Linked DNA regions of Homo sapiens. The protein of the gene in region 2 interacts with the protein of the main gene of each other region in a biochemical or structural test. Each region holds a gene or a part of one and is shown on either strand. Other genes may lie near its edges. The genes, in order: SHROOM3, GIPC2, LPXN, PDZRN3, ASIC3, SLC22A12 and REELD1.

Evidence for each region.
Region 1: the proteins of GIPC2 (region 2) and SHROOM3 interact in a test that uses a peptide from one of them, tested with the Homo sapiens proteins (one large-scale study listed by IntAct).
Region 3: the proteins of GIPC2 (region 2) and LPXN interact in a test that uses a peptide from one of them, tested with the Homo sapiens proteins (one large-scale study listed by IntAct).
Region 4: the proteins of GIPC2 (region 2) and PDZRN3 interact in a test that uses a peptide from one of them, tested with the Homo sapiens proteins (one large-scale study listed by IntAct).
Region 5: the proteins of GIPC2 (region 2) and ASIC3 interact in a test that uses a peptide from one of them, tested with the Homo sapiens proteins (one large-scale study listed by IntAct).
Region 6: the proteins of GIPC2 (region 2) and SLC22A12 interact in a test that uses a peptide from one of them, tested with the Homo sapiens proteins (one large-scale study listed by IntAct).
Region 7: the proteins of GIPC2 (region 2) and REELD1 interact in a test that uses a peptide from one of them, tested with the Homo sapiens proteins (one large-scale study listed by IntAct).

Annotation. Positions count from the first base shown.
Region 1 is NC_000004.12:76,781,229-76,783,753, reverse strand, and holds the end of SHROOM3 (protein Shroom3), read right to left. Parts: 3' UTR 501-2,525; downstream 1-500. UniProt on the Homo sapiens protein: Controls cell shape changes in the neuroepithelium during neural tube closure. Induces apical constriction in epithelial cells by promoting the apical accumulation of F-actin and myosin II, and probably by bundling stress fibers.
Region 2 is NC_000001.11:78,122,466-78,125,965, reverse strand, and holds part of GIPC2 (PDZ domain-containing protein GIPC2), read right to left. Parts: intron 86-3,500; coding exon 4-85; intron 1-3.
Region 3 is NC_000011.10:58,555,357-58,558,856, forward strand, and holds part of LPXN (leupaxin), read right to left. Parts: intron 1-3,500. UniProt on the Homo sapiens protein: Transcriptional coactivator for androgen receptor (AR) and serum response factor (SRF). Contributes to the regulation of cell adhesion, spreading and cell migration and acts as a negative regulator in integrin-mediated cell adhesion events.
Region 4 is NC_000003.12:73,401,442-73,404,941, reverse strand, and holds part of PDZRN3 (E3 ubiquitin-protein ligase PDZRN3), read left to right. Parts: intron 1-546; coding exon 547-794; intron 795-3,500. UniProt on the Homo sapiens protein: E3 ubiquitin-protein ligase. Plays an important role in regulating the surface level of MUSK on myotubes. Mediates the ubiquitination of MUSK, promoting its endocytosis and lysosomal degradation. Might contribute to terminal myogenic differentiation.
Region 5 is NC_000007.14:151,047,205-151,051,330, forward strand, and holds the start of ASIC3 (acid-sensing ion channel 3), read left to right. Parts: upstream 1-1,326; 5' UTR 1,327-1,681; coding exon 1,682-2,215; intron 2,216-2,901; coding exon 2,902-3,052; intron 3,053-3,276; coding exon 3,277-3,404; intron 3,405-3,553; coding exon 3,554-3,749; intron 3,750-3,834; coding exon 3,835-3,891; intron 3,892-3,967; coding exon 3,968-4,115; intron 4,116-4,126. UniProt on the Homo sapiens protein: Forms pH-gated heterotrimeric sodium channels that act as postsynaptic excitatory receptors in the nervous system. Upon extracellular acidification, these channels generate a biphasic current with a fast inactivating and a slow sustained phase.
Region 6 is NC_000011.10:64,594,220-64,597,719, reverse strand, and holds part of SLC22A12 (solute carrier family 22 member 12), read right to left. Parts: intron 1-3,500. UniProt on the Homo sapiens protein: Electroneutral antiporter that translocates urate across the apical membrane of proximal tubular cells in exchange for monovalent organic or inorganic anions. Involved in renal reabsorption of urate and helps maintaining blood levels of uric acid.
Region 7 is NC_000004.12:146,213,300-146,217,337, forward strand, and holds the start of REELD1 (reelin domain-containing protein 1 precursor), read left to right. Parts: upstream 1-1,238; 5' UTR 1,239-1,395; intron 1,396-1,776; 5' UTR 1,777-1,899; intron 1,900-3,642; 5' UTR 3,643-3,653; coding exon 3,654-3,861; intron 3,862-4,038.

The DNA.
Region 1 (2,525 bases), on a different chromosome or scaffold from region 2:
ATAATTTATAGAATGAAGTAGGAATCAATGAGCCAGTTTTTTCATTCACAACTTTCTTCTTGCCTAATTTTGATTTTAGAGTTTCAAAATTGGGTGACAGCTGCTTTCATTTCTCAAAGAAAATGAACACAGTCTTGTTTCATTAGCTAAATTGTCAAATCCACACCAAGGAGAGGTTCTAACTCATATGTAGGATAACATTTGTGATGAAGCAACAGGAATCTGATTCCCACTAAATCAGTAAAGTTCCCACTGAAAAGGCCAGTTGATTAATTTCAGTCAGGGCAGAACTTAAAATTACTGGCAATGTGTGATAAAACTGATTCCTTTTGAGGAAAAATAATTAGTGCAATTAAATCTGAATAAGTGCATAACTTGTTTAAAACAGATCTAAAAAAGAGTAAACAGGGAACAAAATCTGTATCACAACCTTGGGGATTATATAAAAGTAGTGGAGACAGTATAAACTTATATAGCTAATAGAATAAATATGACAGGACTTTCAACTTCTGAGGTTATTTTTATTTTTAAATTTAACTTCAATTTCTGTTTATTTAAATTTTAAAAATTATTCAGATTATTAAATTCATGTTAGTCTTATTGTGATCATAACAGTAGGAACTGTACAGATGATTGGTAGTGGCTCTCAAATGTTAAAATACATCAGAATAACATGGGAAACCTGCTGAAATGCAGTTTCCAGCAGACTTGGTTTTGTCATAGCAATTGGTATTTTTAACAAGCATTCCAAGGATTCTGATGCAGATCGTATCCTGACCACACTTTGAGAAACCATTATTTAGTTTCTGAATGAGCTCCCCATTAAGAAATGTGAAGTTTTATTTAAAAATTAATAAGACAACCCTTTCTGATATTAAAATGGTCTTTATCATTTTATCCTATGCATCCCAAAGAGTTAAGGCAGCAGGAAATACTTTGTTCCCGATAATATATTCCTGTGTAGAAAAGCCCCTTCACATTCACTTGACCACTTTTTATACCTTGTAGGAAATGAAGTTATTTCTGGCTGTAGTTATTCCTTTTTCTAATAGTAAGGTGAATAAAATTCATGTTGTTCTAAAAGGAAAATAATAACTCCAACCTAACAATGAAGCCAGCACTACCATGGACAATTAAACTGAAGAGAAGTAAATTTGGAACCACATAAGAATAAAAAGCCAACATTTCCTTGGGTATCCAGAGACCCAGTATCTTAATAAGAGATGCCTGAATAACATACAAGTTTAAAGGTAGAGCTTAAAGCATATATTTACCATTTAAACTCATGAATTATTTTAGATGAGATATTAACAGTGGAGGAATAGGAAAACTGGGATGTCCCAGGTTGTTTCTCCTTTATAGCTCCCTCAAAGGACCTCAGTTAAGCCCACACTCCTCACCTTAAAAGACAGCCACTGATTCTTAGGGGTGGACCCAAACTTGTTAATCTTCTAGTCTGGAAACCAGCTGTGCAAAACAAACCCTAAAATGTTCCCATAGAGCAAAGGAAAAGATGTTTGGTTTCGACAGCATCTGGTCTCATAGAGAAACTCAGGCACTTTCACTGTGGATCCTCCCTTCATTCTTTGGGGTTAAGTGGCCACCGCAAGAAACAAAACAGCATGAGAAATGGCTGAGTCAACCAACATGTAGTGACATGCCCAGGAACTTCTCAAGTGGCCCAGGAAGTGGAGGCCTCCTGATTTTCTCGCAGGACATTGTCCTTTCCTGGAACCTTGCGGGTGGCTGGAGTATCTGCATTTGGAGTATTGCAAGATTATCTCACCTGAGTTCTGACCAGAAGTGTATCTCCAAAATTATCACATCCACAAAGACAATTATTGACTGTGAGCAAACATTCTCAGTGACATCACGCGTATTCTGAAACCCTGACCAACAACATGCTCCTTACTGTTCTCATGGTCTTGGCAAAGGATACTGTTGGGAGAAAGAAGAATGGTTTCTACTGTAAATGAGTTTTTAAAAATAGTGGGAGAAGAATGCAAAATAGGAAAGGGATAAATACATAGATTTCTAGCTAAACGCATTTAAAAGGAAACTTTGAAAATTTGGTTAGTGATTTCTTTAAAGTACAGAGGTCAAGTCCTATTACAATAAATATCACATCCACCTAAAAATTAGATTTCAAAGTCTCACTTGGTGCCTTACCCATTTCACATAACAGAACAAAGTTTCCACATAATGAAAGAATGGACACAATCCTAGGAGTGTCACAAGCTTTCAGATGTTTGTGGCATGCCAAGCAGCATTGCCTGTTACTGTGCTGTGGGAGTCAATTACTTTTATGTCTATAAATTAGAAAAGTGGCTGGGTGAAGTGGCTCATGCCTGTAATCCCAGCACTTCTGGGACCAAAGCGGAAGGATCCCTTGAGCCCAGGAGTTTGAAACCAGCCTGGGCAACATAGCGAGACCCCCGTCTCTATAAAAAATCAAAAAATTAGCCAAGCATAGTGGTGCACACCTGTGGTCCCAGCTACTTGGGAGGCTGAGATGGGAGGATGGC
Region 2 (3,500 bases):
TACCTAAATCAATATCTCGAATTCCCATGTACAACTCAAGAACATCATCAATCTTTTCAATTGCCTTTGCTTTGGTTTCAGAAGGCTTTATCAAAAAAGAGAGAAATAAGATATTATACAACAAAATCTCTTGATTGTCAGGGCATACACAAGAGAAAGCCTGATGTGGAGCCGGTTCATAATTGTGTATTTCAGCTAATTTTAATGGAAATAGATCTAGAATGTGCTCTGTAACTAAATACAAATCAATACAGTAAATACTTATTTCTAGTGTCAGCACTAAGTGTTACGGATTCAAAAAAGAAAAGCCAGGAACACAATCCCCAAGTAGCTAACAATCTAGAAGAGGAAACAGATGTGAAAATAAATAACATGTAACAGTTTTTAAAGGATATAAAAGGCACAGAAGCATCACAGGGGAGGAAGCAAATTTATATCTCTAACAGTCATGGAAGACTTTAGAAAGAAGGTGACTTGGCTGAGCACAGTGGCTCACACCTGTAATCCCAGCACTTTGGAAGGCCACGGTGGGAGAGTTGCTTCAGCCTAGGAGTTCAAGACCAGCCCAGGCAACATGGTGAGACTCCATCTCTACAAAAAAAATTAATTAATTAATTAAAATAATTAGCTGGGTGTGGTAGCACATGCTTGTAATCCCAGACACTTGGGAGGCTGAAACAGGAGGATCACTTGAACCTGAGAGGTCTAGACAAGCCTGGGCAACATGGCAAGATTCTATCTCTACTAATTAATTAATTTAATTTAAAAGTAACCAGGTGTGGTGGTATGCACCTTTAGTCCCAGCCACTCAGGAGGCTAAAGTGGGAAGATCACTTGAGCCCAGGATGACGAGGCTGTAGTGAGCCATAATTCTGCCACTGCCCTCCAACCCGGCAACAGGACAAGACCCTGTCTCAGAGAAAAAGAAGGATGTCTTAAGAACTGTGGCGGGGTTTTTTTGTCTTGCTTTGTTTTGTTTTGTTTTGTTTGAGACAGAGTCTCATTCTGTTGCCCAGGCTGAAGTGCAGTGGTGTGATCTCAGCTCACTGCAACCTCTGCCTCCCAAGTAGCTGGGATTACAGGCGTGCGCCACCATGCCCAGCTAATTTTTTGTATTTTTTTAGTAGAGACGGGGTTTCACCATGTTGGCCAGGCTGGTCTCCAATTCCTGGACTCAAGTGATCCGCCCACCTCAGCCTCCTAAAGTGCTGGAATTACAGGCATGAGCCATCACGCCCAGCCAAGAACTGTGTTTTCAATGATGAAGAGGAGATAAGCAGGAGAGGACACTTCAAGTAGGATGCAATAGATAGGCAAAGTCTAAGTAAGGTCACAGAGTCATGTTAGAGGGATGCCAGAAGTCCCATGTAGCTGGAGAACACAGTGACAAATATGACTAGATCTTGAGGAGTCCTGTGTACCATGAAAAGGACTTTGGTCTTTATGGTGCAGGCCAGGGTCTCCAAACGTTTGATGGCTCATCCCAATAGTAAAACTTTTCTGAACAAATACCCTTATTGTGTATTTTTAACTTTATTGTATGTATTGCTTATCAATTACACATGTATTACCATATTAATATATTGTATAGATTATAAAAATACACCAAAAAAGGAAATTTTATAAGAATGAGATGATAAAATAATACTTTTTAAATCATTTTTGTGTTATGTATTAATGGTACCAAAACATTTTTGTTCTTCCCGAAATGATTACTAAACATTTCAGTAAAAATATTATTTTAAATTTTTGGTTTAATATTTGGTAAATTCTGCTCAGTTTATTTCAATACTTGGCTTTAAATGGCATCATAGCTGAAAATGGAATTGCCCAAAGATGTTAACTACTCAACTATACATGCAAATGTAGAATTCATTATTTAGATTATAAGAATTTCATGTTACTTTCAATACTGTTATAAATATATGTTGTTTTGTAGTCTCAAATTTTATTAAAATCATGCATTTTATAGCAAATAAAAATCTATTTCCTTGAAGATATTAATACAACTTTCTCACATTTTTATTTACAAGAACTAAACCTTAAAAACAATAACAGACAATATATTGCTCTTGCCTTCATTACAATGTATCTTGAATTGTCTGTATAAAGCAACAGGCTATGCAAATTAACAGGTATTAACCTTTATATCTATCCAGGCACGTTTTAAGTTACGGTGACAAGTGTCAGTACTCCTCATACCCAAATGGCCACCAATATTTTACCATTCTAATATTTCCTATTTGCTACGGAACAGATCTGGATCTATCACCTCTTCTCCATCCACATTCTGTTTGCCAGTGTTTAGTCCTCATCTTTTCTGATTTGCAGAGGTTTCCTATTTTGTCTCCCTGCCTTTGGTCTTCACCCTCTCAAATCCAAGCTGCTCAACAACCCATACCCTGGAACCAAGGGATTTTTCTAAAACACAAAACTGATTGTGTTACTCCCCTCATAATTCTTAAATGGCTCCCTCATTATCCACAAGGCCCTTCATATCCTAACCCCAGCCTATGCCTCTAGCCTCATCACCCCTACCTAACCAGTACTTCCAGCACCCCACACTCCAATCTCATGAACAGCTTACAGGTCCCCAAAACCCATTATTGTTCCATGCCTAGAACACTCTTCTTCCCCATTTTGAACTCACTCACTAATTTCTTCCGGAGAGAAACACTTCCTGACCCTTTTTTTTTTTTTTTTTTTGAGATGGAGTCTCACTCTGTCACCCAGGCTGGAGTGCAATGGCATAATCTCGGCTCGCTGCAACCTCCGCCTCCTGGGCTCAAGTGATTCTCCTGCCTCAGCCTCCCAAGTAGCTGGGATTACAGGTGCCCAGCACCATGCCCAGCTAATTTTTATGTTTTTAGTAGAGATGGGGTTTCATCACATTGGCCAGGCTAGTCTCGAACTCCTGACCTCAGGTAACCCACCCACATCAGTCTTCCAAAGTTCTGGGATTACAGGCGTGAGCTACTGCACCCAGCCTTCTGACCTCCTTTCTTTCCCCAATCCCTGTCAATGGCTGATCAGCCCCTTCTTTGTGACACTGTGTATCCTGCACCTGCTTCCATTAACCCTATCCCACTGGGTTGTAATAGCTTCTTTTCATGCTTCTCTCCTTTTAGAAGAGAAACAGGGTTTTTATTCTTCTTTGTATCACCAGCACTTAGACTGTGCCTGTCTCAGCAAGCACATATTGAATAAAGTATGAGGTTATGCAAGTGGAGAATTGATATGGTTTGGCTCTGTGTGCCCACCCAAATCCCATCTTGAATTGCAATCCCCACGTGTCAAGGGAGGGACCTGGTGGGAGGTGATTGCATCATGAGGTGGTTTCCCCCAGGCTGTTCTCGTGATAGTGAGGGAGTTCTCACAAGATCTCATGGTTTCAAAAGCGACAGTTTCTCCTGCACACTCACTCTCTCCTGCCACCATGTAAGACGTGCCTTGCTTCCCCTTCACCTTCTGCCATGACTGTAAGTTTCTTGAGGTCTCCC
Region 3 (3,500 bases), on a different chromosome or scaffold from region 2:
CTTACTATCTGCCTCTTTACAGAACAAGTTTGCAAATCTCTGGTGCAGAAAGTTTAGATAATATATATGATGATGATTTCATATTCATATAATTGTAAGTAAATTATAAATAAATAAAACTTTGGACCCAATAAACAGAATACAGATTCTATTCAAGTAGCTGCATAAACATTAGTAAAATTAACTATGTATGAAGATACAAAGTAAAGCTCAATAAATTTTTAAAAGTACATCATATAGACCATATTCTTAGATTGGAGTGAATAGAAGTACAAATTAATCATAAAAACTATCCACTTAAGAAAAAACAAAGCACTTCTAAATAATTCTTGGGATAAAAAAATTAAACTGAATTTTCAAACCAGTTAGAAATAGCAATGAAAACACACACACACACACACTCACACACATGCACACACACACACACACACACACGCCTTTGGGAGTTGAAAGCTAAATGTTATTGAGAAGAAAATATATAAATAGACTTAAGTGTGATATTAAAAAGTGAGAAAGATCAGAAATAAATAAAACTTCCAAGTCAAGAGTCTCAGAAAAATCTAAAATAATTCAACAGAAGGAATAAATGCATAAATTAGTGAAACAGAAAACAAGAAATAAAACAAAAACTGACAGTTTTTGGGGGATCATTGTATAAAATTCCCAAATACATAGAAAAATATGGAACATTACCTAATTCATTCTATAAATAGCACAGAAACTTTTTAAAATCAAAGAAAAAACGATGTGCATGTGTGAAGAGAGAAGGTTAAATAAAATCAGTTGAAATGTGTTTTTTTTAAAAAACATAAAAAATTTTAACAAGTCATGGCTAGGTGGTGTTTATACTGGTTATCCAAAAATAGTTTGAAATTCAAAATTAGGAAAAAGATTAATATAATTCATTAACAAATAGGAGAAAAGCTTTATAAACACAATGATATGTGCTGAAAAAGCCGTGGAAGACATTTAACAACCATTCCTGTTGTTGAATATCAAGAAAAATAAGAAAAAGTCTATAAACTGATAAAATGTTTCCATAAGAAATATATAGCAAGCCTCATAATTATTAAGCAGATATCTAATTAAGAGATAAGTTGGACATAGATCCTATTATCACTGGCAATCTTCAACATTATTCTAGAATACATTATCAAACACATTTAAAAGTAAAATAAGAGAATTATATATTTGAAAAAAAGGCAGCACATCCTCAGTCTTTCTTTTAAAATAGATGGTATAATAATTTCCCAGGAAAATGTAAGATAAATGACTGAACAACCATTGGAATGAATAAAAAAGATCAGGGTGGTGATTAGATACAAGAATGAAATGAAACAGTCTCTTTCTTATTGATCATCAATAAGCAGTTTGAAAATCCAATGCGAAAAAAAGAACCTGTTCACAATTCTAACAAAAGTTGTAAAATATCAAATAATATATTTAACAAGAAATGTGTAAGAATTCTATGAAGAAAAACCATTGGCAGACATAAAGGAAGATCCACATATCCAATTAAACAATGAGCAAAGGACCTGAATAGATATTTTTCCAAAGAAGAAATAAAAATGGCCAAAAGGTATATGAAAAGGTATTCAACACCATTAATCATCAGGGAAATGCAAATCAAACTATTATGAGATACCACTCACAAACAGATGGCTATTCTCAAAAAGTCAAAAGATGGCAAATGTTGGCCAGGGTATGGAGAAAAAAGAACCTTTATACACTGTTGGTGGGAATGTAGATTGTTACAGCCATTACAGAAAATAATATGCAGGTTTCTAAAGGAATTAAAAATAGAAATACCACATGACACAGGAATCCTTCTTCTGGGCATACACAAAATAAATGGAATTACCACTTCGTAAAGATCTCTGCACTCGTATGTTCATTGCCACAATATTCACAATTCACAATAGCCAAGAGGTGGAAACAACTTAAGTGTCCATCAATGGATGGACACCAATGGAATAAAGAAATTGTGAAATATGCACACATACACAACAGAATATTAGTGAGCCTTAAAAAAAGGAGATTCTGCTATTTGTCATAGCATTGATGAATTGGAAGGACATTATACCAAGTTAAATAAGAAAGAAACATATTGCATGATCTCACTTATAGGTGGAATCCTCTTTTGTCATTTAAAAAGGTCAAATATGTAGATACACTGGTGATGAGAGGCAGGAAAGGGGGTGAAAATGGGGACATGTAGGTTAGAGAATATGAAGTAGCAGATATGTAAGATGAACAAGCCTAGAGATCTAATGTACAACATAAGAACTATCGGTAATGAAATTGTATCGTATTTAGGATTCCTGTTGCAAGAGTAAATTTTGGCTGTTCTTGCCACAAAAACAAACAAACAAAAATGTGTAACTGTGTGAGATAATAAATATGTTAATTTGCCTCACTATAGTAACCATTTTACTAACTATTCATAACCCATAACATAATATTGTACACCTTAAATATGCACAATAAAATTTATTTTTAGAAAAGAAAGCCTATATAAATGAAGATAAATATTATGTCAGTTTCCCCTAAACTGTAAATTCAATGTAATTCAAATAAAAATTCTGATATAATTATTCAAGCTAATTAATAAGATGATGTTAACATTTATGGGATAGAACACTCAAGACAATTTTGGAAAAACAAAATAGGAGGGGTGTGTGGTGTCTCACACCTGTGGTCCCAGCACTTTGGGAGGTCCAGGTAAGAGAATCACTTGGGACCTGGAGTTGCGAACAACCTGGGAAACATGAGAGAGACCTGGTCTCTATAAAAATTAAAAGTTGTAAAGAAAAAAAAAAACAGGAGGGAAGATTTGTCTTGATAGATGTGGTGTCTTATAGAGTAACAATAATTAAATTTGTATGATGTTGGTAAAGAAGATAGGGCTGGGTGCGATCGTTCATACCTGTGATCCCTTTGGGAAGCTGAGGCAGGAGGACTGCTTGAACCCAGGAGTTTAAGACCAGCCTGGGCAACATAGGGAGACCCTGTCTCTACAAAAATTTAAAAATCAGCCAGATGTGGTAGCACACATCTGTCGTCTCAGCTACTCAGGAGGCTGGGGCAGGAGGATCACTTTGGCCCAGGAGGCCAAGGCTGCAGTGAGTTGTGATCACACTACTGCATGCCAGCCTGGACAACAGAAGCAGAATGAGACCCTGTCAAAAAAAAAAAAAAAAAAAAAAAAGAGAAGAAAGGAAAGGAAGAAGAAAAAGAAAAACAAATAGGTCAAAGGAGTAGATTAGAAAACCCAGAAACAGGCTCCTGCACCTAAAAGAACTTCCTATATGAGCAATGGGGCATTTCAAATCATCCAAAACAGACTATTCGACTCAAAGAATAACAACCTATTTGGTACAAAATAAATATGGATCCCCAACACACCAAATACATGAATAAATTTGAGACAAATTAAAGATAGATATCAATATTTTTAAATGTAAAGATAATAGAAAAATGAAGAATATATTTTACAATTT
Region 4 (3,500 bases), on a different chromosome or scaffold from region 2:
GAATTCCTTCTCCATAATAACTTGCCATATGCCGCTATGGCCTGAACTGTCATTTACTTAATATTTTCAATGGACTTTTTAAAGAGCGAAAGGATTATTAAGAGGAAACTTCATATTACTTCCATGAAGGGAAGACTGGTATCATCTGACACAAACTGGAAAAATACACACTATTAAAACATAACAATGTAATGAATTTCTAGTTAGCTATTATTGCCTGATAAAGGCTCGGAGCCTGAGGCTGGCCTTTTCTTTCACAGGCAAGATTAGCAAGTGATGAAATTGTGTTAAAGACATTCCACGGGGAAGCTAAGCCTTCCCGCTGTGAGATTTATTATTGCATGCCAGATCTGAATACCTCCAAACTCACTCTCTTTCCACCAGGCATTCTTCGGGAAACCTAAACACAGAGAACTGAAGTTCTCTGACACCACCACCTGCTTCTTTCTTTTAGCTGCTTACACATGAAAGCAGGCAATTCATGTATTTGTCCTTCCGTTTTCTGCTTTATTCTAACCTTGTCCCACCCTAAATATTTTTCCACAGGTCAACGGCAGAGACTTATCCAGAGCAACTCATGACCAGGCTGTGGAAGCTTTCAAGACAGCCAAGGAGCCCATAGTGGTGCAGGTGTTGAGAAGAACACCAAGGACCAAAATGTTCACGCCTCCATCAGAGTCTCAGCTGGTGGACACGGGAACCCAAACCGACATCACCTTTGAACATATCATGGCCCTCACTAAGATGTCCTCTCCCAGCCCACCCGTGCTGGATCCCTATCTCTTGCCAGAGGAGTAAGTAACCTAATCTTGAACCCCTAATGCATTAAGAAGTATTTCCAAGTTGGTTTCTTTCTCTTCTATGTGGTGAAAAAAATTAATGCACCCTATAGTTTTCCTCCAAGTTGCCCATGTTTAACTTTATTGTTTATAGAGGCAATAAATCGAATCCTGCTCAAAACCGCTCCGACATATTAATTACTTTATTATAACCCTGGAGCGGACTTATTCAAATTATATCCTAAGAACAGAATTACTTACAAATGTTGTAAAAGTTGTTTCAGAATAAAATGTAATCACCCCAAATGGTAATTTGAAGATCCTGCAGTTATTACTAGGGAATGTTGATCATTCTTTTAAATAGACAAAAAAGTAAGTTGTGTGTGTCAAGAGAGCCCTGGAGGTTGTGCCTTCTGCTTTCTTGGGTCTCATTTCAAGCCTGGATCCATGTAATAAGCCCGCACATGCCTCATCTAAGTACTGCATCAACCAATTAAATAACAGCTGCAACTCAGCACGCCACATGGATTTCTTTACACACACCTCTTCTCTCAACTTATTTCTGCCAGCGATAAAGAGTCCTTCAGAGGCTTCAAGTCAGACAAACCTGATGCTCAAAGTGATTTCTAGTTGTGGAACTTGGGTAACTTACTTTGTTTTGTGGGGCTGTATTTTTCCTATATTAAAATGGAGATAACAGTATCAATCTCTTATCATTGAAGGATTAAATGAAACAATATGTGGGAAGTGCTCATGGGGCATATGGTAAGCACTCAGTAAATGGTACCAGCGATCACCGTTAATTTAGTGGGTGATGTAAAATATTCAGGAAAAAATGAAGAGCAAGACACTTTCTGTGATAGACTGCTGGCCCCCAAGGTGTCCAGTTCGACATAGCTTTTAACATAGCTTTTCAAGGCCAGGCGTGGTGGCTCACACCTGTAATCCCAGCACTTCGGGAGGCCGAGGCAGGTGGATCACAAGTTCAGGAGATTGAGACCATCCTGGTTAACACGGTGAAACCCCGTCTCTACTAAAAATACAAAAAACAATTAGCCAGGTGTGGTGGCGGTCACCTGTAGTCCCAGCTACTCGGGAGGCTGAGGCAGGAGAATGGCGTGAACCCGGGAGGCGGAGCTTGCAGTGAGCCGAGATCATGCCACTGCACTCCAGCCTGGGCAACAGAGCGAGACTCCGTCTCAAAAAAAAAAAAAAAAAAAAGCTTTTCATGTGTGACTTTGCACATCTGAGGACACAGCCTCTCCAGCTGATGTTAGGGTCGCCCCTGTGTTTTCTCATCTCAGCTCCATCTCGGATCAGATCATTGACTTGATACATTATTTCAAAGGGCATTTTCACCTCTTACAGGAGAATCCACTGGGTAATACCTGTTGGATTCCTACTAGTAACTCAGTAGCTGGAGTGAGCACATGTTTCCTATGGTTCAGTCAAGTTCTGGATAAAGGCTTGCCCTTCATCCCTTGGTCTTAGTGGCTAGCTGTCATTGGAACCCAGGACTAATTCCCCAGGCTTGACAGAGTAGGTTTGGCAGCAGCTGGTAGCATAAAGACAGAGGACAGGGCATCCGTCTCACATTCACTCACAGTGTGCACATGTGCAAAGAACTATTATCTATCTCCTTCATTTCTCATGACTGTCCCTTTATACAGATGAGGAACTGCAGACTCACCAGGTTCCACTGAGCTGATGGAAAGGCAGGTCAGTCAGACCCCGACTCCCAGCTCTGAACCACAGTACCCTGTAGTGACCCATTCCATCCTCTGGAACAACTGGCTGATTCACTGAGTATGATGATCCAGACCATTTATCTGACGTTACAGACCAAACTGCCTCACATTATTGATGAAGCCTTTAAGGCTACTTCTGACTCTTAAATGTTGACCTGTCACAGTGATGGGCCTTTTAGAAGCTAAACCTGTAATTTCCTCTTAGGTCTAGTTAACATGACATGACTTATCCCCTGGGGGCGACTTGAGAAATGTCAGAAGAGTCCAGAGGTCAGGCCTCTTCAGGTTCTGGCTGCAAGGTCAGACAACAGCAAGAGCGTGTGTCGGGACTGAATGGGGAATGTTAAGTTGATGCTTGAAAGCCCAGACCTTCCAACAGTATCCTCAGTACTAAAAGCCCTTTAAGTGCAGGCAGTATATTTGCCTGATGGGTCCAGAAAATTGAAAGCCAGCCCTTGTTTGAATGGCCACTCATGTCTGATCTGTTGTTTCAAAACTAAGTGCCTGGGAGGGAAGACTAGAGCCCATTGATTGCTGTGCTGACCTTTGAGGACGTGAAGGTTTGGGTCCCCAGCCAACAATCAGAGGCTGAAGCTTTGCATCTGGCACCGTGGACTGTTAAGCTCCTTTCAAAGCTGCTGATGGAGTATGTTATGATTCCCACTGCCTTGGCTCCTTGAGGTTGCATTAATGACGTTTCCAAAGATGTCGTGAGTTCTGTGGACTGTGTTTTGCATATGTTGTCCTAGGGAAACATAAGCTTCCAGTCTCCTAGCAGAGTGAATGTGTGTGTACTCATTATATGTAAACATATACACACAGATGCACTTATGCCTACATGTTTGTATGTGCATTTCAACCATGTAAGTGCATACTGTACGTTTGTGATATCAAACATATTATTGTGGGTAACATTCAAAAAGACACGGTCCTAGGTAACAGCAGAACAGTTTCATTCTCAGCCTTTTGAACT
Region 5 (4,126 bases), on a different chromosome or scaffold from region 2:
CCCTTCACCCGCCCCCTAGAGAAGCAGTGAAACCCCTTGGCTAGTCCAGCTGGAAGAGCTAGACCGCAGGAGCCGCGCCGTCTTCCTAACCTCGCCTCGGCCTTCGCTCCACAGTGGAGAGTGGGAGCCTAGCTGTGCTTGATGCTGAATGCCTGTTTTGAGAGTGTGAGTGGGATCATCTACAGTAAATACTTGCAAAGCATGGCACTGTGGCTCTGGGGAGCTGGTACGCCTGTGCTGTAACCATGGTACTCAGTCCTTCCAAAGTGTTTATTAATCAAGCACCTGTCATGTGCCATTGAGCCCACGATGGGGAATGAGGACAGTCCCTGCCCCCATGAAGCTTGTGTCCTGTTGGGAGGACAGACAGGTGGCCCAGCAGTTGCAGCATGGTGTGTGCACACGTTTGGCTGGTGGAACCATGTTTCTACCACTCATGGTCAAAAAAAGCCCACCAAAGTCCTGGGAGTTCACATCTGTGTGATGATACGGCAACATTGTTTGTAATGGAAAGACTGGACACCCCCAGTGCCCATCAGTGGGGGAGTCATTAAATAAACTATGGTATGTGCACATAATGGGTGGTATGCAGCCCTTTGGAAAAATGTAGGTTTTCCAGGTCCTGGATATAGCAGCGTAAGATGGGAAATCACAGAATACCCATGTTGTGCCTGAGATGGCAGGTGGGGTACCCGTGGTACCCGGGAGGGTGGCAGGTGGGGCACCCATGTTCTACCTGGGGTGGCAGGTGAGCCCATAACCATTGTAGAGGCCAACATCCTCAGAGGCCTGAGTGTGGGGAGGTAGGCTTTGACTCCCTAGGGAGAGAGGGACACTTAGGAAACAGACGGGCCCTGGAAGTGGGACATGAAGAGTGCCCTGGCCATCCAGTGTAGGCTGAGATGCTAGGGGCACAGAAAGAAGAGATCTGCTGATGCCAGCCTTCCAACCATTTCCCAGCTTGGCCAAGAGCCAGCTCTGGTATTCGTGAAGGAACAGATCCTGGGTGAAGCTAGAGGGAAGGCCGCAGAGGCAAAAGGAGAGAGGAGCTAGGCCAGGGGTCAGCGACTGACCCTCGCGGCCAGTGTACAGGGGTTGCAACTGGGAGCCTAGGGGGCCCCAAGGCATCTCCAGGCCCAATCTACCTCTGGGCTTTTCTCAAGCTCTCCCTAGGATTACTGCGGTTTCCTCCTGGCGCCTCTCGTCTTGGACAGCCATGCCCCCCTCCATGCTGCACTAATGGCTCAGCCTGGGGCCCTAGGGACCTCTCCTACCCCCCAGACTGCTCTGTCGGCCCCCTTTCCCCCCTACTGCTGAAACCCAATCCTCTGCAGCAGCGCCGGCTCAGCACCGCCGGCTCAGCACCGCTCCGCAGCCCCTGCCTGCCACGGTCAGCTACGTCCCACCTGGTCTGCTGCGGAGTCCCCAGCCCAGTGCCTAGCCCAGTGGAGCCACCGCCTGTTCCTCGGGAAGGAACAGTGGGACCTGACCGGCCAGATCACCTCCTCCAATCCTGCCAGGCTAGTGCCTCCCTGCCTTCCAACCTTGGCTGTCTCCCACCCTCTCTTCTCCTCTCCTTGCCTGGCCTCCTGAATCCTATCTTAGCCTCCTTAGCCCCCTGACTGACTCTCTCTCGCTTCTTCCAAGCCTCTGTAGCTGGTTCCGCTCCTGGGTTCTGGCCATGAAGCCCACCTCAGGCCCAGAGGAGGCCCGGCGGCCAGCCTCGGACATCCGCGTGTTCGCCAGCAACTGCTCGATGCACGGGCTGGGCCACGTCTTCGGGCCAGGCAGCCTGAGCCTGCGCCGGGGGATGTGGGCAGCGGCCGTGGTCCTGTCAGTGGCCACCTTCCTCTACCAGGTGGCTGAGAGGGTGCGCTACTACAGGGAGTTCCACCACCAGACTGCCCTGGATGAGCGAGAAAGCCACCGGCTCATCTTCCCGGCTGTCACCCTGTGCAACATCAACCCACTGCGCCGCTCGCGCCTAACGCCCAACGACCTGCACTGGGCTGGGTCTGCGCTGCTGGGCCTGGATCCCGCAGAGCACGCCGCCTTCCTGCGCGCCCTGGGCCGGCCCCCTGCACCGCCCGGCTTCATGCCCAGTCCCACCTTTGACATGGCGCAACTCTATGCCCGTGCTGGGCACTCCCTGGATGACATGCTGCTGGACTGTCGCTTCCGTGGCCAACCTTGTGGGCCTGAGAACTTCACCACGGTGAGCTGACCTCCCTACCTATCCTGCCAGGGACCCAGAGAGCCGACCAGTCCCTGCCCAGCACCCACAATTCCCTAGCCAGCACAGGCTCCCCCAAAGCCAGGGGACCTCTTCCTTCCTACCAGCCATGGACTCCCCACCCCCCAGTGCCACTCCGTGCAGCCCAGGAAGCTGTCCTCCTTGGGGCTTTCTCTGTCTCCCAGCCCGAGGGGAGCATGTGAGGCCACACTGACCCCGGCTGGCCCTAGGCCTGAGGTCTGGCCCAGGGAGGCCCTGCTCCTGGGGCTGGGGGTCCTCCATGGTGGGACCATTCTGGGGCAGAAGACCCCTATCTCTGCCAGGAGGTGGGGGGGGCTTGCTTTCCCTCTGCCTTTTCAACATACTGCCAGCCCCGGAGGACAGCCACAGGGGCCCATTTCCTTTTCCTGCAGTTCCCAGAGAAACACAGAAAAACCTGTAGGCTGTGCCCTGGGCTTTGGTGGGGATTGGCGGGGTGGAGGAGCTGAGTTGATGGGCTCCCAAGAGCGTCCTGCAACATGTGCCCACTGGAGCGTGGGGCTGGGGGCATTGAGATGCGGGCTTCAGTATTCAAAGAAGAGACGCAAACATACCATGAGGTGGGGAGAGGTCCCATGACCATGTGCCTGCCTGGGGGAGATGGCCATCACCCTGTCTGCCCGCCCCAGATCTTCACCCGGATGGGAAAGTGCTACACATTTAACTCTGGCGCTGATGGGGCAGAGCTGCTCACCACTACTAGGGGTGGCATGGGCAATGGGCTGGACATCATGCTGGACGTGCAGCAGGAGGAATATCTACCTGTGTGGAGGGACAATGGTAGGGAGCACACAAATGAGGCTGGGGGAGGGCACGGATGGAGTGCAAAAGGCTAGGGGAAGGAGAGGAGGAGAGGAGGTGTCAGGGTGTTCCCCCAGAACCTGTGAAAGGGGCTGGGCTGGCTCATCCCAGTCCTGGGGAGAGGGGCTGCAGTGAGAGGTCTTGTCTGGTTGGGCAGGAGACCTGACCACACAGGTCAGGCCTCACAGGTCCCTCCCCGACAGAGGAGACCCCGTTTGAGGTGGGGATCCGAGTGCAGATCCACAGCCAGGAGGAGCCGCCCATCATCGATCAGCTGGGCTTGGGGGTGTCCCCGGGCTACCAGACCTTTGTTTCTTGCCAGCAGCAGCAGGTACCCTTCCGTGTGCCTCCACACCTACTACTTCAAGCCCACACCACCTCAGACCCTAAACCCTCAGCTCCTCAGACCTGTCTAGGGGCCTCTCCCCAGCTGGCCTCTCACGCTCTCCGGGAAGCCTCCTTAACCCTGTCCCCCCACAGCTGAGCTTCCTGCCACCGCCCTGGGGCGATTGCAGTTCAGCATCTCTGAACCCCAACTATGAGCCAGAGCCCTCTGATCCCCTAGGCTCCCCCAGCCCCAGCCCCAGCCCTCCCTATACCCTTATGGGGTGTCGCCTGGCCTGCGAAACCCGCTACGTGGCTCGGAAGTGCGGCTGCCGAATGGTGTACATGCCAGGTGAGGGGCTGGGGTTTTCGTCCCATGGCGGGCAGGGCCCAGGGAGCTGAGGCTGCTTCTAAAGCCATCTCCCCGGTACCCGCAGGCGACGTGCCAGTGTGCAGCCCCCAGCAGTACAAGAACTGTGCCCACCCGGCCATAGGTAAGGGCGAGCCTCCCCCACCTCCCGTCCGCCCCGCTCCGCCCGCGGGCGTCTGACGCGGCCCGGTGGCCCGCAGATGCCATGCTTCGCAAGGACTCGTGCGCCTGCCCCAACCCGTGCGCCAGCACGCGCTACGCCAAGGAGCTCTCCATGGTGCGGATCCCGAGCCGCGCCGCCGCGCGCTTCCTGGCCCGGAAGCTCAACCGCAGCGAGGCCTACATCGCGTGAGCTGCGC
Region 6 (3,500 bases), on a different chromosome or scaffold from region 2:
TGGCTCCTGCAGGTCCTTCAGCCAGACGTGTTGTCCCCTATGAGCAGCCAGGGTGGGGCCACCTGCCCTACACCCACCGGGGCCCTGAGCTCCTTAGGGATTTGCAGAACAGAGGGGAGAAGTGGAGATTCCAGGTGCATATTAGAGATAGAGCTGATGAAGCCTGGTGACCCAGTGGACTTGGTGGGGGGATGGTGAGGGAGAGAGAGGCGTCATGGCCACTGTGACTCTGGTGAGTTCAGGGGCTGCTCCCCACGCTGGGGAAGACTTGGGGAGGAGAGGTCTAAGGAGATGTGTGTGGGGATGAGACACCTATAATGGAACCGTCACGTGGGCAGTTGGAGGTGTAAGGCTGGAGGTCAGTGGGGGAGGCAGGACCAAGTGGAGATTTGGGGTCTGCAGTATTTGGAGGGAGCTGGGGCTGCAGGCAGGGGTGAGGCTGCCTGAGGGAGAGAGTGTGGACTGTGCCCGCCACATAGCAGGTACCACAAGTGATGGTGGCCAGATCATTGTGGGTGACCCTGGGAAGGGCAGTTTGGGCGGAGAAGAGGGAGAAAGCTGACTGGAATGTGTTGTAAGTGACTGGGAGGGAGAAAGCGGGGTCCCATTCTCAGATGTCAATACCCCAGGTTGTTCGTCAAGCCCTAAGCACAGTTTGTGAGGCCACGATGTGTGGGATTCCCTATGAGCTCCACGTGGGCAGAGACCACATATCTGCTCATAGCTGGTGTCAGCCAGCGCCTGGCACATGGTAGGTGCTCAGTAGTTATTTGTTGAATGAATGAAGTAATGAATGAATGAATGGGCACTTCTTCAGCCCTGTGGGAGCACGTCTACCAAGGAAAGGGGGGTGCAGCTCTGTGGCCCTGCATCAGCATGAGAACCAGGAGGGGTGCCTTGGAATTTTTATCACTGACCTTTACCTTCCACTCTCTACCCTCTTGGTGTTGGGAGTCAAGCTGCCATCCCAGAAGGCTCTTGTCGGACACGATTGCCTCCTTGTGGAGCCACTGTATGAGATGTAATTTTCTCCTGCTCTGAGGAGTGGCTGCAAATTGTTACTCCACTCCAAGCTGTTGGGTGGGAGAGATTTGTGGACTCAGCCTTCTTCTTAGTGTGGGTGCGGGCACCTGCTCACCACTGGGCCTCTGCTGTGCTCCTTTCTACAGTGGTCCCAATGACCAAACAACTACTAAGTGCAGGGCCTGTGTATGAATGATCCAGGCTCAGCCCTGCCCTCAAATGGCCTCCGTCCATCCATCTATCCATTCATCCATCCAGTTCATCCAATTAATCCACCTATCCATCCATTCAACCATCCATCCAACCATCCATCCATCCATTCCATCCATCCATCCATCCATTCATCCATCCATCCACCCATCCATCCATCCATCCATTCAACCATCCATTCAACCATCCATTCAGCCATCCATCCATCCATCCATCCATCCATCCATCCATCCATCCATTCCATCCATCCATCCATCCATGCATCCATCCATTCAACTATCCATTCGACCATCCATCCATCCATCCATTCCATCTATTCCAACTATCCATCAATCCATCCATCCATCCCATCCATCCATCAATTCCATTCATCCATCCATTCCATCCATCCATCCATTCAACCATCAAACCATCCATCCATCCATCCATCTATCCATTCCATCTATTCCAACCATCCATCCATTCCATCCATCCATCCATCCATCCATCCATTCCATCTATTCCAACCATCCATCCATTCCATCCATCCATCCATCCATCCATCCATCCATCCATCCATCCATCTTTTCCAACCATCTATCCATTCATCTATTCCAACCATCCATCCATCCATTCCATCCATTCAACTATCCATCCATCCATCCATCCATCCATTCAACCGTCCATCCATCCATCTATTCCAATCATCTATCCATCCATCCATTCATCCATTCCAACCATCCATCCATCCATCTATTCCAACCATCCATCCATCCGTCTATTCCAACCATCCATCCATCCATCCATCTATTCCAACCATCCATCCATCCATCTATTACAACCATCCATCCTTTCATTCCACCCATTCAACCATCCATCCATCTATCCATCCATTCAACCATCCATCCATCCATCCCTCCTTCCATTCCATCCATCCATCCATTCCAACCATCCATCCATCCATCCATTCCAACCATCCATCCATCCATTCATTCCAACCATCCATCCATCCATTCCATCCATCCATCCATCTATTCCAAACATCCATCCATTCCATCCATCCATCATCCATCCATCCATCTATTCCAAACATCCATCCATCCATCCGTCCGTCCATCCATCCATCCATCCATCCATCCATCCATCCATCCATCCATTCAACCATCCATTCAACCATCCATCCATCCATCCATCCATCCATCCATCCATCCATCCAACCATCCATTCAACCATCCATCCATCCATCCATCCATTCCATCCATCCATCCATCCATCCATCCATCCATCCATCCATCTATTCCAAACATCCATCCATCCGTCCATCCATCCATCCATCCATCCATCCAACCATCCATTCAACCATCCATTCAACCATCCATCCATCCATCCATCCATCCATCCATCCATCCATCCTTTCCATCTATCCATCTATCCATCCATCCATCCATCCATCCATCCACCCATCCATCCATCCATCTATTCCAACCATCCATCCATCCATCCATCCATCCATCCATCCACCCATCCATCCATCCATCTATTCCAACCATCCATCCATCCATCCATCCAACCATCCATTCAACAATCCATCCATCCATTCCATCCATCCATCCATTCCATCCATCCATCCATTCCAACCATCCATCCATCCATTCCATCTGTCCATCCATCCGTCCGTCCATCCACCCATCCATCCATCCATTCATCCATCCATCCATTTATTCCAACTATCCATTCATCCATCCATCCATCCATCCATCCAACCGTCCGTCCGTCTGTCCGTCCATCCATCCATCCATCCATCCATCCATCCATCCATCCATCCGTCCATCCATCTATTCCAACCATCCATCCATCTATCCATCCATTCAACCATCCATTCAATTCATCTATACAATCCAATCCATCTATCCACCAACTCACCCATCCACTCATCCAATCCACACATCTGTCAACCCATTTATTTATCTGTCTCTATCTATCTACCTACCTACCTACCTACCTACCTACCTACCTACCTATCTATCTATTTCTACTTACCTAACAATTCATCCATTCAACAAATATTTATTTAGCACCTACTATGTGCCAGGTGCTCGGCAAGGGCCACGCCTGATTTGTTTCAGGGCAGTGCTGACATTTCCTAACCTCCCACACATGCCGGCCCTCTGTGGGGACTGTGGACTCCCCTCTGATGAGTGGATCCTGGTCCCTGTCTTCCAGCAGACAGACACAAGCATTGATTCTGTCAGCCCATGAAGCAGACTGCGGCTGTGCGCTGTGTGTGC
Region 7 (4,038 bases), on a different chromosome or scaffold from region 2:
TGGGGTGAGAGTAAAAAAAAAAAGGAGAGGAGGGACACTTTTGTCTCTAAGACTGGGATAGGAGCAGAGTGGAGTGGAGAAGAGGTTAGCCACTCTCCTGCTAGGGGCAGAGATCTGTGTCAGGACCCAGTGGAGGGGGTGGGAAGAACCCAGGCCACAGCCTTGCTGAAGACCTGAGCCCCTTTTTGGCATAGAAGCCTTCCAACTAACAGTCTTCAAGTGACCACATGAGCTCTGAAAACTATCATAACAGCAGCCATGGAAGGAATGTATCCTAATTTTCTAGACCTCCCAGAATTTCTCATGACTCAGTGGGAGATTGAGATTGCCTCCAATCCTAGTGGGATAGAAGCTTAGAGAAACCAAATTGAATTTGTTTGCTTTTGTTCTGTGTGTGGGGAATACTGGTATCCTAGGCCAAGGAAGCCCAATTTCCCTTGGTGTTTATAGGATAGATAGTCTCATTTACACTTGCAACAAAAGGCTTAGCAACCTGGTCCCTAAGCCAGTGCCTTGCCTATTCAGTCACTCATAGCTTTAGTTTTTTCTGAGTGGAGACAAGGCCTAACAGTCAGAACATTGCTCTCTCTGCAGCCCCCTACTCCACATCACCCAGGACTATCAATCCTAGGATTCTCTCTTGGACGCCTTGCATTCAAACAGCCACCAAATCCTACCTCCACCTGATCTCCTGATCTCCCAAATCCATTCCTCTCTCTTTTTCTTCATTGTTAATGTTGCAAGCTTCTAGGTGATGCTGGTGTTGCACTCTAGGGACCACACATTGAGGAACACTGATCTATAGGCTCTCTGGTATTATCAGGTGTCTCAGCAGATTCTTAGATGAATGAAAATGTGAACTCCAGCTTTAGTGCAATTGATACGGGAGGTGCCTATGCCACGTGTTATTTTTTTGTACCAAACGTTGCTCTTGGGCTAACGTATCAATTCTATTTCACCAAGAGTAACTTCAGTCCACACTGACTCAAGAAGCCAAGAATGCTGAGATGCATTTCATTCAAACATTCTCCCCTTTGCAGGGAGATCAAGATGGAGGCATCCAGCTTCTGCCAAGGATGTCAGTGCCAGTCCTGTGCAAAACCAGTTCCGGTTCTTTCTAGTTCTTCACGCAGGCTTGAACAATGATGTGACTGTAAACCGTGTGTGTGTGTGTGTGTGTGTGTGTGTGTGTATGTGTGTGCTAATACGATTTAGGTTGGATTTGGACACTGAGGAACAGTTCCTGGAGATGCTGAGGATTAGTGGTAGCAGCTGTTATTCTCCCCATTAGAGGAAAAACTGAAAGGAGAAGAAAATACTTATGTTTAAGGGATGTGTTTGCAACTCTGCGGGAGGAAGCCATTCTATCAAGCCTGAAGAAAACTGTGTTCCTAGGTAAGTGGATGTTTTTATTTATTTATTTTTGTAGAGACAAGGTCTCCCTGTGATGCGCAGGCTGGTTTTGAACTTCTGGCTTCAAGTGATCTTCCTGCCTCGGCCTCCCAAAGTGCTGGGATTACGGGTGTGAGCCACCATGCTCAGCTCCAAGTGGATAGTTTTCAGGGTTCAGGTAGACAAGATGCTAGTGGGAAAGAAGACACAGTGAAACCTAAGGCAGGAGGGTGGGAGGTGGGGCTGTGGCCGTAGTCTGTGAGTCCAGGCACTCACTCCCCTTCCCTTGTAGGCAACTGTGTCTGATCTGCCTTTGGAAAGACCACTTGCCATCAGCAAGGACTTGAGGAGCATTTTCATTTCATTTCTTTCTTTTCTTTTAAGAGACAGGGTCTTGCTCTGTACCCAGGCTGGAGTGTAGTGATGTGATCATAACTCACTGCAGCCTCGACCTCCTGGATTCAAGTGATCCTCCTGCCTCAGCCTCCTGAGCAACTGGAACTATAGGTGCGCACCACCATGCCCAGCATTCAAGGGGCATTTTGTATGTGGCCCTTATGAAAGAAAATGAGAAGAACCCTGAGCCCCCTTGACTGAGAATGTGCTTTTACACAGTTCATCTTCATTATCTCCTAATGTGTCTGAGAAGCTGTAGCCATGGTTCCTTGTAGTATGGAGATGTGTGACTTTGGTGCTTCATAGAAAACAAACTTAGAAAAGAAAGGCATTGTCTGAAGGACTCTTATGTCTAAGAAATTTGAGGTATAGATCATATTCCTGTCTTCTTTTAGCTTGTGAATGTAAAAGGTGGTGTTGTGTGAAGAGACAATGGGAGTGGAGGACACTTGATTATTTGGTTTATGGATTATTTCCTTAGTCTATTGTTCTGATAGCTAGTTTTACTACATTTTCAGGATTTTATTTTCACCTTTTAAAACCAGCTGACTACAGGGGAGGGCATTTTTTTTTTTTTTTTTTTGCCTTGCATTGTTCCTTAGGTCAAAAAATTAGCCAAACTTCTAAAATGCCTGTGTGCAGGACTATAAAAAAAAAAACAGAACTTTTTTTTTTTTTTTTGAGATAGAGTCTCGCTCTTTTGCCCAGGCTGGAGTGCAATGGCATGATCTCAGCTCACTGCAACCTTGGTCTCCCAGGTTCAAGCAATTCTCCTGCCTCAGCCTCCCGAGTAGCTGGGACTATAGGCACATGCCACCACACCCAGCTAATTTTTTGTATTTTAGTAAAGACAGGGTTTCACCGTATTGCCCAGGCTGGTCTTGAACTCCTGTGCTCACGCAATCCACCTGCCTCGGCCTCCCAAAGTGCTAGGATTACAGGCGTGAGCCACCGCACCTGGCCTAAAACAGAACTGTTAAAAAATGCCTGTGATAATCCTAAATATTTATGTAGGCAGATTTTCATCTGCCTTGTTTGCTATCTCTCATTTTATTTTTGTCATCTTCTTTTACATTGCCAAATTTTAATTCTTCCTCTTGATGGGAATTAGAGGTAGTAAACAAAAATAAAATTTACTCTATAAATGCTATTTTATTCAATCATTGTATTCTATTCCTGAGCCAAAATTGTTATCAGTATGTTTAAGAAGTTATAGAATAAATTGAGTATTTCTTTCTCTGCTCATCTTCTTTACTAAAAGTAGTGAAATAGCTAAAAACAGCCAAAGAAAGGGCAAAGAGATATCAAAGCATTGCCAGCTTAACAGTCACTTCTAAATAATTGATAGTTGGTAGATGTTTTGTAGCACTTAACTTGGTAATTTTCAATTGCAACAGAGATAAGATGCTCAGCCAAGCCATCCCATGCCATGCTGCCTGACCATGGTGGTGTATTGAGTGTCTACTTCAGATAATGTATCAGAGGCCACACCGCCTTTGGGTACCAGTCAGCTTGCAAGGAGCTCACGCTAGGATACAAACATTTTCTGGTTTTATTTCTTTGACTCAATAATTAAAGCCTCTCTTTTGAACAACAACAAAAAAAGCAGTCTGGTCTTATGAGAAAATTACAAGAACAGAAGTTTTTAAAAAGGTGTTTGGAAATGAAACACTTCCTATAGCCTGGCATTTCCTTTTGATCTTGGCCTTGAACATTAGCAATCCTGGGAGGCTGCACTAAAAGCATCTCAGGTACAGAGGCAGTGTGGGGTTCAGGTTAGTCACATCCCGAGAAGACTTTATGTCGTTTTCCTAAATAACGTCTGGACTGAAGCTGCTGTTTGTCATGATACAGGAGAGGGCAGGATGAGGATGCAGGCTGCCCTCGTGGGCTGGGCTTGTACCACCCTCTGCCTGGCTTCCTGCTCATCTGCCTTTTCCCATGGTGCCAGCACGGTGGCCTGTGATGACATGCAGCCCAAGCACATCCAAGCCCAGCCTCAGCACCAGGACAGCCACCACATCACCATCCACACCCACAGGACTTCCTATGCACCAGGTGACAAGATTCCAGGTATGTACCAGAGAGGCTTAGAGAGACTCCGAGGAGCCCCAGAGCCCCCATGGACCTTCCAGTTTGTGTTTGTCCCAGTCAGAAGCTTCCTGGACTAAATTTGGCTTAATCCCTTTTTTTTGTTTTTTGTAGAGATGGAGTCTCACTGTGTTGCCCTGGCTGGTCTGAAACTCCTGG